Linked DNA regions of Homo sapiens. The protein of the gene in region 4 interacts with the protein of the main gene of each other region in a biochemical or structural test. Each region holds a gene or a part of one and is shown on either strand. Other genes may lie near its edges.

Evidence for each region. Proteins that work in one complex are often made in the same cells at the same time.
Region 1: the proteins of TRMT13 (region 4) and LIMK2 interact in a test that uses a peptide from one of them, tested with the Homo sapiens proteins (one large-scale study listed by IntAct).
Region 2: the proteins of TRMT13 (region 4) and SNTG2 interact in a test that uses a peptide from one of them, tested with the Homo sapiens proteins (one large-scale study listed by IntAct).
Region 3: the proteins of TRMT13 (region 4) and DLG2 interact in a test that uses a peptide from one of them, tested with the Homo sapiens proteins (one large-scale study listed by IntAct).

What each region holds. Positions count from the first base shown.
Region 1 is NC_000022.11:31,264,298-31,267,797, reverse strand, and holds part of LIMK2 (LIM domain kinase 2), read right to left. Parts: intron 1,853-3,500; coding exon 1,666-1,852; intron 815-1,665; coding exon 728-814; intron 23-727; coding exon 1-22. UniProt on the Homo sapiens protein: Serine/threonine-protein kinase that plays an essential role in the regulation of actin filament dynamics. Acts downstream of several Rho family GTPase signal transduction pathways.
Region 2 is NC_000002.12:957,349-960,848, reverse strand, and holds part of SNTG2 (gamma-2-syntrophin), read right to left. Parts: intron 1-3,500. UniProt on the Homo sapiens protein: Adapter protein that binds to and probably organizes the subcellular localization of a variety of proteins. May link various receptors to the actin cytoskeleton and the dystrophin glycoprotein complex.
Region 3 is NC_000011.10:83,471,845-83,475,344, forward strand, and holds part of DLG2 (disks large homolog 2), read right to left. Parts: intron 934-3,500; coding exon 883-933; intron 1-882. UniProt on the Homo sapiens protein: Required for perception of chronic pain through NMDA receptor signaling. Regulates surface expression of NMDA receptors in dorsal horn neurons of the spinal cord.
Region 4 is NC_000001.11:100,139,663-100,143,162, forward strand, and holds part of TRMT13 (tRNA:m(4)X modification enzyme TRM13 homolog), read left to right. Parts: coding exon 1-49; intron 50-519; coding exon 520-589; intron 590-745; coding exon 746-852; intron 853-1,189; coding exon 1,190-1,357; intron 1,358-3,474; coding exon 3,475-3,500. UniProt on the Homo sapiens protein: tRNA methylase which 2'-O-methylates cytidine(4) in tRNA(Pro) and tRNA(Gly)(GCC), and adenosine(4) in tRNA(His).

The sequences.
Region 1 (3,500 bases), on a different chromosome or scaffold from region 4:
CCAGGCTGCGCATCACTTTCACCTGGGGGTGGGGGAAGCCAAGGAAAGCTGGTGGTTAACTTCTCACTGTCTTCCTTACCTCTTCCCTCCAAGGAATCAGCTTGACAAGTGTTACCACCTGTATCTCCTACCTCCTATCTTGTGATATGACAGGGCACTAAGATCAGGATGAGGGAAGACCACCACCATATAGATGGAGATGGCTTCATAGGCCTTACCCTTGGAACTGCATTGGGAGAACTGGGGTGGGAGTGGCCAAGTGGCTTGGAGGGCAATACCCAGACCACAGGTGTCCCCAACTTAAGTTACTCCATGAAGTAACTTGGGAGGGGTAGTGAAAACTGTAAATGCCCAAGGAGTGTGAGTGCTCAGGGAGCTCCCCTCCAGGCTCCCTTAGCAGGGCGTTCAGGTGAGGATTATAACATTGAGTTGTACTAAATTGGAGTGTTTTCATGTCCATCATCCTCATAACCTGAGAGCTCTTCTGAACCCTGTATCTTTTGTTACTGCATCCCTTGTACCCTGTTTGTGTTGCTTTTAGTAAGTGTTCATTGAACAAATAATTACGCTGTAATTTAGAGGGAGTGGGATATTCCTCTAGGGCTCTTTTCTGCTTAGTCTTTAAGACAGTAATTCCAAACTGTATTTTCTCTTGAAGCCATTATTTGTAAGGTCTTCTCTCTTCCAATGGTGACACCAACCTCCCGGGCCCCCTCCATCTTCTTACCTCAGTCAGAAAAGTTTTCTGGGTCTCCTCATCACATCGAATTAACTCTTTCATGACCATCACTTTGCCCGTGGCTTTGTGTGTCACCTACAGGGAGGGTGACTGTTAATGGTGCTGAGACCAGAGGAAGTTCTGGAGAACTGTTTGAGAAAATCTATGCAGCTGGCCATCCCATCCCTTGGAGGGCACACTGAGCCGGGTCAGAATGACAGAGTTCATGTGTGGAAGATGCAGCGTGGAGCAACATGGGACTCACACGGAAGCAAACCCTCTTTCCTGGAGAGCTGGGCATGCACAGAGGACAGGCAAGAACCCAGAAAAGGGAAGTGGGGAAGAAGGCAGGAGGGGATGCTGCCAAGCCAAGCAGGGGCTCTGGTCATTTGGCATAGAAGTGAGTCTCCTGAGTGAACAGAAGTCTGGGGGCAGGAAGGTCAGTGCCAAAGACATGCACCAGGGAGCTGGGTGGATCGGGGGTGAGCTCTCCAGCCCTGCTGCCCCCAAGCTGAGACACACGTCTTACCTGACCCCCCCTCCCAGTTCTCAGCAGAAGAGGAGGAGGAGGAGAGAAAGAGAGAGGTTAGTCCCTGAGACTGTTCACCAGGGAGGCAGGAGCCATTCCCCTGTGTGCTCCTTGTAGCATGCCCGGTACTGAGGTCTGCAGGCACCTAACAAACACCCACTGACTGGAGGCAGGAGGGCCACAGGCACAGCTCAACCCAACCTGGATCTCCAGGTCCACAAGCTCACTGTAACAGCAACATTGACCTTAGGTGGCCTGGGTGGGGGTGAAGGATACCTCTCACACCAACACCCAAAGCCAGGAAGGAGGCCTGGCATCCTGCATGGTGTGGGGTGGGGCCAAGTGATGAGAAATCCCCGAAAGACAGTGACAGAGGGACTGGGGGCAGAAGAGCAAAGCAATTGTTGCCTGCGCTCACCTTGATAGCCTGCCCAAAGAAGCCCTTCCCCAGGACCTCCCCATGGATTAGGTCACAGGGCCGGAAGATCTGCTGTGAATAGCTGCTGGAACAACGAAGGGATTCTGAGCGGCTGATGTCACGGCTGAACAGCAGGGGCTCCTTTGGGGAGCTGGGGCCAGGGGACTTGGAGATACTGTTACTGCGCCTGAAGATGAGGAAAGACGGGAGTAGGGATGTGTAGTCCTCAGAGACCGGCCAAGAAACCCTGGAGGGAGGAAACTTAGGGGCACCTGTTCATTCCAATGTCTATAGTTTAGATGTTATTATTGGGGAACAGGGGCTCTTACATCAGATGTATCATTTTGGGGTTGCTGACATCAGTCATTTATTTAAGCATAGTAAAAACACATTCAAAATGGGAACTCTGCATACATCACACATAGAACAATTAACTAGATTCTACTAGCTGATAATGCTCAGTATGTGACATATATGACAACACTGTAGATGGTAATTCACCATCTCCCATATCTGCTTGATTTAAGTACTAACTGGTTTAGAGTGATAGTTATACTAGTATCCAAAAAATGAGCAAATGGGATTTTTTTTTTTTGAGACAGAGTCTCGCTCTGTCAACCAGGCTGGAGTGCAGTGGTGTGATCTTGGCTCACTGCAACCTCTGTCTCCCTAGTTCACCTGAGTCTCATGCCTCCGCCTCCTGAGTAACTGGGACTACAGGCATGTGCCACCAGGCCCGGCTAGTTATTGTTATTATTATTATTTTTGAGACAGAGTCTCGCTCTGTCGCCCAGGCTGAAGTGCAATGGCACGATCTCGGCTCACTGCGACCTCCGCCTTCCAGGTTCAAGCGATTCTCCTGCCTCAGCCTCCCAAGTAGCTGGGAGTATAGGTGCACGCCACCACGCCCGGCTAATTTTTTTTTTTTTTTTTTTTTTTTTGATGGAGTCTCACTCTGTCGCCCAGGCTGGAGTGCAACGGCGGGATCTCCACTCACTGCAACCTCTGCCTCCCAGGTTCAAGAGATTCTCCTGCCTCAGCCTCCCAAGTAGCTGGGATTACAGGCGTGTGCCACCACAACCGAATAATTTTTGTATTTTTTTAGTAGAGATGGGGTTTCACCATGTTGGCTAGGTTGGTCTCGAACTCCTGATCTCGCGATCCATCTGTCTCGGCCTCCCTAAGTGCTGGGATTACAGGCGTGAGCCACCACACCCGGCCCTAATTTTTGTATTTTTAGTAGAGATGGGGTTTCACCATATTGGCCAGGCTAGTCTCAAACTCCTGACCTTGTGATTCGCCCACCTCGGCCTCCCAAAGTGCTGGGATTATAGGCGTGAGCCACTGCGCCCAGCCTAATTATTGTATTTTTAGTAGAGATAGGGTTTCACCATGTTGGCCAGGCTGGTCTCAAACTCCTGACCTCAAGTGATTTGCCCGCCTCGGCCTCCCAATGTGCTGGGATTACAGGCGTGAGCCACCGTGCCTGGCCAGCAAATGGGATTTTGGATGATATTTTGCACATCTTTGTACCTGTCCATGTTTCCTGAATTTTAAGATGATAAACACGTATGATTTTTACAGCAATAAAGTCACTATGTTTACATTTTCAAAAGCGGTCGATAATAGTCATGGTCAATGACTGTTATTTTCACTTACTGAAGAAGGAACAAGAAGGTTGAAGTCCACAGCACTGCAGGTGAACAGCCCTGCGAACTTTCTCTCTGGGGTATGCTCCTGCTTTACTTGGGCTACCCAGAGAGGACTGACGCTGGATGGCTCTTGGCTTGTCCCGACCTACAGGTTTACTTACCCTTGTCCTTTTGCTCTGCCTC
Region 2 (3,500 bases), on a different chromosome or scaffold from region 4:
ATGCCCGGGAACCCTCAGAGCTCACCGTGCTCCCATGAACAGGCATTAGGAGCACCCCCTTCAGAACCTACAGCCGTGCGTGGGAACCCTCAGAGCTCACCGTGCTCCCATGAGCAGGCAGTAGGAGCACCCCCTTCAGAACCTAGGAACCCTCAGAGCTCACCATGCTCCCATGAGCAGGCAGTAGGAGCACCCCCTTCAGAACCTACAGCCATGCCCGGGAACCCTCAGAGCTCACCGTGCTCCCATGAGCAGGCAGTAGGAGCACCCCCTTCAGAACCTATAGCCGTGCCCCGGAACCCTCAGAGCTCACCGTGCTCCCAGCTCCTCCACGAGGGCAGAGTCCTCTGTCTGCATCCAGCTGAACCCTGAGTTCCAGGGCTCACCTGGGAGACAACAGGAATCCAATCTCACCGATGAGAAAATAAGGCACACATGACCCTACCCTGAAAAGCATCGTGCACTGAAGCATTCCCAACAAAGGAGAGAACAAAGGAGAACAGGCAGCCCGAGCTCTCGGGAGAACTGTGGGGCCCAGAAGCCCAGCATTCCCCACTGTGGGATCCTACCAGGGAACAGGCCTGGCTATCAGCTGGGATTCCTAAGCAACACTGTCACCCTAGTCACAGACGCCTGAGCCAGTGCAGCAAGGACAGGTGCTGCTTTCCAGACAGAAGGGCAAAGGACCGTGTCATTAACAGAGCCCCCTCCTACGGGAACACCTGCCCGAAGCCTCTCCACTGATACAGAAGAACCTTAAGCAGGGGGATGATGGTAATTGATGGATATTTCTTAGCAAACTATGAAAATTATCATTTTATAATGAGAATTCTAAAAAGCAGGATAGAAAATTCTATCTTGAGGATGAGTTTAACTTACAGAATATACACCAGAAAAAGCCAGAAGGAAATCTATGAGCTGCTAGATAGGTATAGACCAGGTCACAGGAACTTTCCTTCCTTGTATTTTTCCATCTCATATTCACTTTCAGTACTGAGATACGGATACCATGCCACTATTCATACAAACATCAAAGGAATAAAGGAAATGTATTTACTCCAAAGAAGGGGATAGGAAGATTCAAATCACATCCCCAAAGGTTCCCTCCATCTGCACAGCGGCACCCGAGATGCAGCCTCCAGCCCCGGGTCACAAAGGCAAGGCCTGCACGATGCAATTCTGTGACACTGGTCTGCTCCGTTCACCTTCTCCATTCAGCCCAAGGCCAGTAAAGCAAAGGCCGCCCTGAGACTTTGCACAGCCCACTGCGGGAACACCACACCCCCAGGCAGCCCCCTGCACCAGGCGACCCTAGCACAGCTGAACCCTGGACCTCCCCCCGACTCCAGGCCTCCCTGACTCCCTTCCTCCTGCCAACATGGAAATTACAAATCTAAAAGCATTCTGATTCCACCCTGATTAAAACCAAAAGAATCTGTAGGTCACGACAAAATTTGATAAAGCTTTGGAAGAAAATAATTGCAATACATAAAGCTCATAGCATTTTCATAGATCTGTGCTGGTCCTCTCCTCAATTCAATAAGGAAGAGTTGCATAAAAGAATATTTACATCCCAGCGCTTACAAAGCACGTAATTCACATATGCAGCTGTTTCCTAGTGGGTTTGTATCTTGTTCTGATAGGAAAGCTTTCAGTTTACTTCCTTTTTTCAGCTACTAGATTTTCCTCTTTATTCGATTACTAAATTTACAATATTATTCAACATAGAAATGAATTTTTTAAATATAATTAAACCTTATATAAGTGTTATACATTACAAAATATATTACAATTTGTTCTATTTCATTTTGTTGCTACAAAGAACAAATGTATTTTATATACAGAGAAAAAGTGGTCTTATCTGTGTGTGAGTCCTTATCCTTTATTACCTTTTGTTATTAGCAGTTTCAGAGTTTGGTTCTAATTTCTTAACTCTTACCCAAGCATCATTGTTTTAGATATCGTACTATCCCAAAATTTTGACTGTCATAAGGCATGTTTGATACTATAACTCCTAACATCAAAATATTAAACTATGTAAGAAATAGTACATTTTACTGTACTACATCTAGAAAGCTAAAATAGAAAATAATTTGGAAGTCCACACAATTTTTTTCATATCTCTCTGGATTTCAAATGAACCACTTTAAAAAAAAAGACCATTTATTTAGATTATAATGTATTTTGGTTACAAATTCATGTTCTCAATACCTTTCAAATTCTTAACCCCAATTTAGATAATGGTGACTTTAGAGGTTTTCTTTTTTTTCCTTTTTAAAGCAATTACAGTGTAGGTAATTGACAAAGCTTCTGCTAGTTCAGCTTCAATAAAATGTCATATCTTTGCAGAGTCTTTTTATGAAAAATCCATCTTGAAGCACCAAATCTGGAGAATATCACATAGTACTCTGCATGATCTCAACATCATTTCACTGCTATGTGTGTGGGGAGGGGCTGCATGAGCTGTTGCCATCTACTCGACTTATGAACCTGTTCCCATTTTGTATGACAACCTCAGTTATAAGAAAACAGTTGTATATTCCTCCTGATTCTGATTTCCTAATTCCTGTTGTTATCCTTTTGTCTCACAAGCAATAACCACTTAAAGGAAACGCATTTGGGGCCATTTCTCAGCCTTTGCACGTGGGATAGAGACATCTCTCTCACAGTCAGACGCCCAGGGGCTGCAGCCACCATGCGGACCACACCTCACCTGCCGTCTCTACAGTCTTATGTGTAGGTGGGGAGCATCAGCAGTACCCCAGGGGTGTTAAAGGAACGAAGCCCTCCAAAGAGCTCTTAGTACCTAGTAGATGTTAGCAATTAGGTAAGTTCTAACCTGGGGGTTCTGGGCTCAAATTCCCTACATTTCTAAGAAGATATTCCCTAAAAGCTATATTACTTACCTAAAAAGACTGATTAGCTTCCCACGGCTGCTATGACAACACTTCCTCAAACTTAGTGGCTTAAAACAATGCACATTTATCTTCTCACAGTTCTGGAAGCCAGAAGTCCAGGATCAAATTCCTCCAGAGGCTCCAGGGAGCCTCCTTCCTGCCTCCTCTAGCTCTGGTGGCTGCAGGTGCCCCTGGCCTGTGACTGCATCTCTCCCGTCTCAGTCTCAGTCTCAGTCTCAGTACCAGTCTCGCCTTCCATGTGCCGGAAGACAAATGTTGCCCGACCTCATCTATAGAAGAGGGAACACATTGTAGCTGCCCTGTGCTGTTTCGTGTCTGCTTGTCTAGAATTTGCCTCTCAGGTAGTCAGGGCCCCACTGGCCTGGTCTGAGAGGTGTTCTACTCTATTTTTATCTTTAGCTTCCAGCTCAGTGTGTGGCAATTAATAGGTACTCAATCATTCTTCTCTAAATTCTGTGTGTCTGTGTCTGCACGTACGTAAGGTGCATCATGATAAAGCAATTCTCCAAATGGCACTTAATCATCGCCAAACCCCCAACTTTCAAAAGGAGGCCTGAGACCCAGAGCTACTTCCCACCACCG
Region 3 (3,500 bases), on a different chromosome or scaffold from region 4:
CACTGGATAAATTACTCATACAGCCTTGCATAGGGAAATTGATGTTTAACACTCAGGAGATTGGCAGTGCCTACTTTCTGGAATCTACTAGCAGGGAAAGGCAATTGCAGTATCTGTTGATGAAAAGAAACATTTGGAGGAGTTTTGCTTACTCTCTGGCTCTGCCTACATAATGTCAAAACAACTGAATTTAGTCAACTGAGTGGGAGAAAAAAGAATCCAAACCAGCTGTTTGGCTATTGTTTAGATATGACTATAAAAAGTAATTGTTAGTAGTAATAACATCTTATGTTTTCATGATTTCTTTTCCCCAGATCAAAATACTCTCTATACTTTGCTACAGTTTCTAGATTTCCTTGTATCTGGGATTAGAAGGAACCTGAGAGTTCATTGGGTACAAGTCCCCATCTGATGCTTGAATTCTCTCTGCAGTATCCTTGTCAGTAGCAATTAGCCTCTGTATAAATGCCTCCAGGAAAAAGCAGCAGCTTACAGATAGCCTACATCTTAGGCAGATCTGCTAGAAAGTCATTCTCAATACTGAGCTGACATCAGTCTCTCAGGAGAATTTATTCACCAGTCTCGTAGCTAGTGCTCTTTAGGTAATTTGAATGTGTTCCTTCCCATTGAGGACCACTCATCTGGAGGGCTGCATCCTTCTCTTAGGTGCTATTAGTGCCCATACTCAGCAGGAAGTTGTCTGTTTGGTGATAGGGTCAAAGAGAGAGAAAGTGAGAGACAGCGTAAGAGTAAGGTACGGTCTCAAGACAACAGAGCATTAAGCCGAGTTTATTCTCCTTAGTCCTTCACTCTTTCCCTCCTTCAATGATGTCACCTCTTATGGCCCAGAAATTAGGAATGAAAGCGTGCTGGGAAACTTACTTTCCTGCCTTGTAACAGGCTCATAGGAAAGAATGAGGTCTTCTTGTCCTCCTGAGAAGAGAAGGAAAGAAAACCACAGTGAACTAACAGTCATATATTACAGAGACAAGCCCTGCTCTGAAACACAGGAAACAGACACAGCTCAGAGTTAATTCTCCTTGCTCTTTCTCCTTGAACCATTCAAAAATAACTTCATCCTCATAAAACTCTTTAGCACCATTTTAGTATCAGATTTTCACAGTCATAACTCTAAGTAATAACTGGTTGCTAGCTATTTGCTGCAGGGCAATGACCTGTGAGACTTCTTTCTGTCTGGCATTGAGAATGGAATGCCATGGCCTCTACACCAAGCATTACTACTTAAAAGGAAGCCATTTAGTTCAAGGAAAGGGTCCAATTCAATAGATGGCTGCTACATAATCAGAATTGCTGTACCTTTTATTTCATCTTCTATTTTATTTCCCCAAGAAGCACACTGTTCAAAAGCAAGTATATGCTTATTTCATTTATGATATAAAAACTTCATCAGGACACTCAGGGTTTTACTCTAATATTAATTCGTCAGGAAAATGCTGTGGGTCAATTAATGAAGATCAAAAATTGAGGTGTGTCCTACATCATTGGTTATAATTGCTGCTAAACTGTGCGTTGAAACTTCAGATAGAGAACTAAGGAAGACACAGTAGTAAAATGTCAGCCCCTCCAATGTCATCTGCTACAAGCCTTCTGACTCAGGGTGGACCTCAAGTCAACAAATAACCATAGAAAGTAAATTGGTTTTTGCCATTTATTTTTTCAATCATCTATTTTATATAATTGATGAATTAATTGGTCAGAGGATTAGCTCAATTTCACCTGCAAACCCGGAAGTGTCTGCATTTTTTTTTGCATTGACTAACCTTTGGAACAGCAATAGGTTAGGGCTGTTGAAAAGAACTTTCTGTCTACTAGAAGAAATAGTGGAGCAGAAGTGGAATATGAGGTAACTTCTGAAACCAAAGGGCAATTCACCTTTGCTGTATATCCTCACCACCCACCCCTGAAGCACATTCATAGTCTATCAATGCCAGGTTTTCCTCCTTCAACAGCCACAGCACCACAGAAAGAGAGGTAATTTCATAAGAAGAGTTAATATGATCGACTGTTTTGATAATGAGACTGATTTGGGGAAATTGAGCAATATGTGGGTATAGCTGCGAAGTTGGATGACTTCCTTGGAGGCTGGGTAGCTGGAATGGGATGGGGATAGGAGTGTCTTACTTTTTCAAGTGTGAGAAATGGCCTCAGGCTGAAGTCATATCTTATCTCAGTCCCAAGGAGGGCCTGGGCTCAGAATGGCGCCACCATGCCAAGCTACTTCTTAAGGGTACAGAGAGTGGACCTTGATGCTCCTCCTAAGTGGTATGTACCCATGGCCACCCCAGAAGTGTTCAGGGGACTCTGCCACATTGGTCAGGGGTTTGGTCAGTGAGGAGTCAGATTCACTATTTCTTGTACTCAGGAAAAGAATGATTCCCTTTGAATAAACTACTGAAATGTACAGAGCCTAGGCCAAAAAACATGAAGGTGATTGATTACTAACCCCCAGTTATCTAAAGCCTGAGCGATGTAGAGGGTATACGCATTCAAGGTTTTAGTTTAGTATTACTTCATCAGGAAAATGCTGTGGGTCAATTAAAGAAGTGTAAAAATTCTTGGGGAGAAAGTATAGTTTTAATGATAGAAGCATCGTAGACTAACATTGCAATTTTAGACTATAACTTTACAGGGGAAATCTTCAACAATTAATGTGCAAGGGAAGAATTCTGACCATGGGATAACAAAAGCTTTAAATGTCAGGTAACTCTTGGACCTCCTTATTAGGCTGGGAGTTTCATAAAGGCGAGAACTGAGTTTTATTCATCACCATGTCTCCAGTGCCCCATTGAGTGCTTAACATAAAGAAAGATGTCAACAAATTTGCATTCTGATTTCAGTCATGGGAAACAGGATGAGTGATGAGGCCAACGGTAGGTTCTATTTTGTGTTTCTGTCAATATGGTCATTTAACTTTGGAAAGCATCGTTTTCTCTAAATAAATAGAGCACATCAAGTTCCCATAAAAATCTCTTCCCAATGGCTTTGCAAATCATTCTGATGGAACGTTCTAAAGGCAAATCTTTAATAAGATATTTGATGTCAGTGTGTATGATTGCGATTCAGACAACTAGGGCAAAGCATAGCTTTGATTAATTTTGTTCAAGAGTTCTCTATCTCTGTCTATCCATCACTTCTTGGTTTACTTTTCTATGAAAGGCACTGGTTCTGGTTCTGGTTCAGAGCAGTAGTGTTGGTAGACAGCAATGGCAGCATCCCTTATGTCCGGGCCACCCCAATTCTCAAGACCTTGTGGCAATCAGGTACTGTGTAATACCCAGGAAGCCTGTGGGGAAACCCGTGGAGGTGGGCATGACATAATTGCTGTGAATTCAGCATCTTAAACTAATTTTTACTTCCATGTCCAAGAATGAAAAGCCCTATGGGTAATGAGGAAGAGACAAAGGGAAAGAGAAAAAGCCACTGTGATGAAGGAGAGAAAATTCATGTCTTTGTGGCACTTTGCGGGCCTTGAGGGGCTT
Region 4 (3,500 bases):
AGATATTAATGCAGGCTTAAGAGATGAAACAGAAATACCTGAACAATTAGTAAGTACATTGACTTAATATTTAATTTTAAAAGATATTTATAAGCTCTCTTCATGATGTGAATAAGGCATGTTCTAATTTTTGTCTCAAGTCTGTTTTTAATTTAGAATGCATTTTCCTGTAGACTTAATATTGTTAGTGATGGTTAGTTCCTAGACCCAGACCAGCTCATGCCCCATAACAAAAGAAGCTACAATATGGCCCTGAATCCCCTTTGATTCTTGAACCCTTCTGAGCCTAGACTTGTTCTTGACCTTGAGGAAGTTAGGAAAATTAAAGTAGCACAGCAAAGACGGAGTAGAAATTTAGCAGTTGGACAATTCTGATGGCAGCTTAGGGAAAAGGCTTGATAGAGAGAAGAGCCTAAGCTGTCATGGGATTTGCCCAGTTGGTAAACCTCTACTCAGTCTCTGTTATGCTACTTTAAAGCAATTTTTGGCTACATTATTTAGTTTTATTTTTGTATATAGGTTCCAATTTCTTCTCTATCTGAAGAGCAGTTGGAAAAGTTAATTAAGAAATTGAGAAAAGCAAGTGAAGGTAAGACTGCCTAAAGTTGCAAGTTCAATTATTTTAGAGTAATTAGGTGGTATATGAGTTGATACCATTCTGGTTTAAAATATGTTACTACTATTGTTCAGAATCCTACAATTACATGTTTGGCTGCTTAAGCTGTTGTGCTTATATTTGGCACAGGCTTGAATTCTACACTTAAAGATCATATTATGTCCCATCCAGCATTACACGATGCACTTAATGACCCTAAAAATGGCGATTCTGCAACCAAGCACCTGAAACAGCAGGTATGTTTAGGCTATAGTAACTACTAAACATGGCCTTTGTTCATTTGTTAAAACTGTTTTAAATGTAATTATTAATAAGATTTTATTTTGTTTACCTTTGAGGGTACCAAATATTTCCATTTCAAAAATATATAGAAACATATACAAAAAATTGAGGGCATGGATGTGATTCTGAGTACCGTATATTAAATATTTAAAGGCAAGAGAGAAAAATTTTAAGTCAAATACAAATTATCAATGTAAGCATACTGCCTTATGCAGAAATTACCTTGCTGTTTTCCCATTTGAACCAAATGTGTTTACTCTAGTTTATAAAATAATCTTGTGAAGTTTGCAGGCTTCTATTTTAGGTAACATTGAAAATTTAAAGTTACTTGGTCCAAGAAGATGCTTTGTTGAGTTTGGAGCGGGAAAGGGAAAATTATCTCATTGGGTTGATATTGCCTTAAAAGATGCTGAAAAAGTTCACTTCATCCTAGTGGAAAAGGTGACCACAAGATTCAAGGTAAGTGAAACCATTGCTCTGTGTTAGTAACCAAACTTGTTTTCATTTTTTGTATTCAGGAAAAAAGTGATAGAAACATTTCTTAAAAGAAAGGAAAGGAATTTTCTTTATCTGTTTGTTGTAGCTTTTTATTAGTTCTAATTGTATTGATAACTCAAACTGAAGGTGAATTTTTTAATCTAAGTTTTGATAGTCCATTGATCTGAATTCTTAAAATTATTTGCAGAGACAGGAAAATATATAGAAAGAGCCAAGCTCAAGCTAGGAGTTAAAAGTCTTGGGCTCTACTCCTATCTTTGCCACTTGCCCTTCATTCATTAAACAATTTTTGAGCATACTGCCAGGCCCCACCCAGGCTGAAGTACAGTGGCAGGATCGTGGCTCACTGCAGCCTTGACCTCCTGGGCTCATATAATCCTCCCATTTCAGCCTCATGAGTAGCTGGGACTATAGTCCCACGCCACCATGCCCAGGTAATTTTTTAAAATTTTTTGTGGAGACAGGGTCTCACTTTGTCGCCCAGGCTGGTGTCGAACTCCTGAGCTTAAGCCATCCTCCCACCTTACCCTTCCAAAGTGCTGGAATTACAAGTGTGAGCCACTGTGCCCAGCCACTTTATTACTTATATTTAGAAAAGAGACCCAGGCAAATACATAAATGATTGTAGTGAAGTGTTAAAATACGAGAAAGGTCTGCACAGAGTACAGCATGGTTTCAAAGAAGGGAGTGACAAGTTCTATTGCAGGGAAGAGATGGAGAATGACTATGTAGAAAAGGTGATGCTTGAACTAAATCTTGAAAGGTGAATTGGTGTTTGTTAGAGAGTTTGAGAAGCATTCTAGGAAGCAAGAACAGTGTAACCAAATACCTGAAATAACAGGAAAATATGGAAACATTCCTGTATAATGGGAGTACATGGTGCAAAGTAGAGTTCAGCAATGATGGGACTGGAGAGGATGGCTAGCCTATAGAAGGTCTCATATTTTATGCTAAGGAAGGAGTTTGACTATGCTGCTGTCTGGTGGGGATACAATAGAAAAAAGATTTAGTTCTTGGCTTTGAGGAAGCTTACGTCTAGTGGAGTAGACATATAAATATTTGTGTTCAGTATGCTAAGTGTGTTTTGATAGTGGTAAGTACCCAATCCTATGGGAGCATGAAGATAGAGCACCAACCTCAGTCTAGTGTGGGTCATAGAAGTTTTTGCAGAAGTGACAGTTGAGATGAGATTGAAATAATATGTAAGAGTTGGTAAAGTAGAAGGAAATTTTTCAAAGTTTATCCTAGCAGCACCATTAAAACTATATTAGAAGAGTCTGATACTTAGAGAGATTAATAATAAAGATAATTTTTGTCCAACAATCCAAGTAAGAAAGAGGCCAGAGCTAAAGCTATTGCATTGGGATGGAGAGGAGGGCAAGAGTATGAGAAATATTAAGATGTTGGAAGCCACAAGAGTTGGTGATTTGTTAGTAATTGAATATGAGAGATAAGGAGTAATTCTCGGTAGGATTTTTATGGCTTAGGTGACTAAGTGGTGTTCTTTCCTGAGATAAGGAATGAAGGAGGCACAAGAGGAAGGATGGTTTTGGAGACAGAAATAATGAGTTCAGTTCTGAATGTGTCCAGTTTGCTGGTGAAGTAGAGCTTTCTAGTTCACAATTGAGTATGTGTCTGATGCCCATTGGAGAGGCCTGAGCCACAAATGTAGATCAGCCGGTCGTGGGCACATAGGTATAGATTAGAATGGTTGTGATCTTTCAGGAGAGCAAGAAGAGGAGCGAACCAAAAATAGTACACCAGGAGTGACAAAGATAAAGGAGCTAGTAGACAATCTTAGATAAATCACTTAAGATCTGTGAACTTCAGTTCCTTTGTCAGTGAATTGGGAATTTTTAGGGTTAAAGGAAATAATGTCTATGTAATAATTGATAAACATTTTCAAATCTTTTTTAAAAAGTGTGATATTTTGAAGTTCTCATCAAAGAATGTACAATCTTAATTTTTAAATATGTTCTGTTGCTCTGAATTTTGAAAACCAATAAAAATCTTTTTATTTTCATAAAGCTTTTTTAAATGTAAGAAGTGATTATTACAATAATGTTCTGTTTGTGCAGGTGGATGGAAAACACAGAAAGAAAAA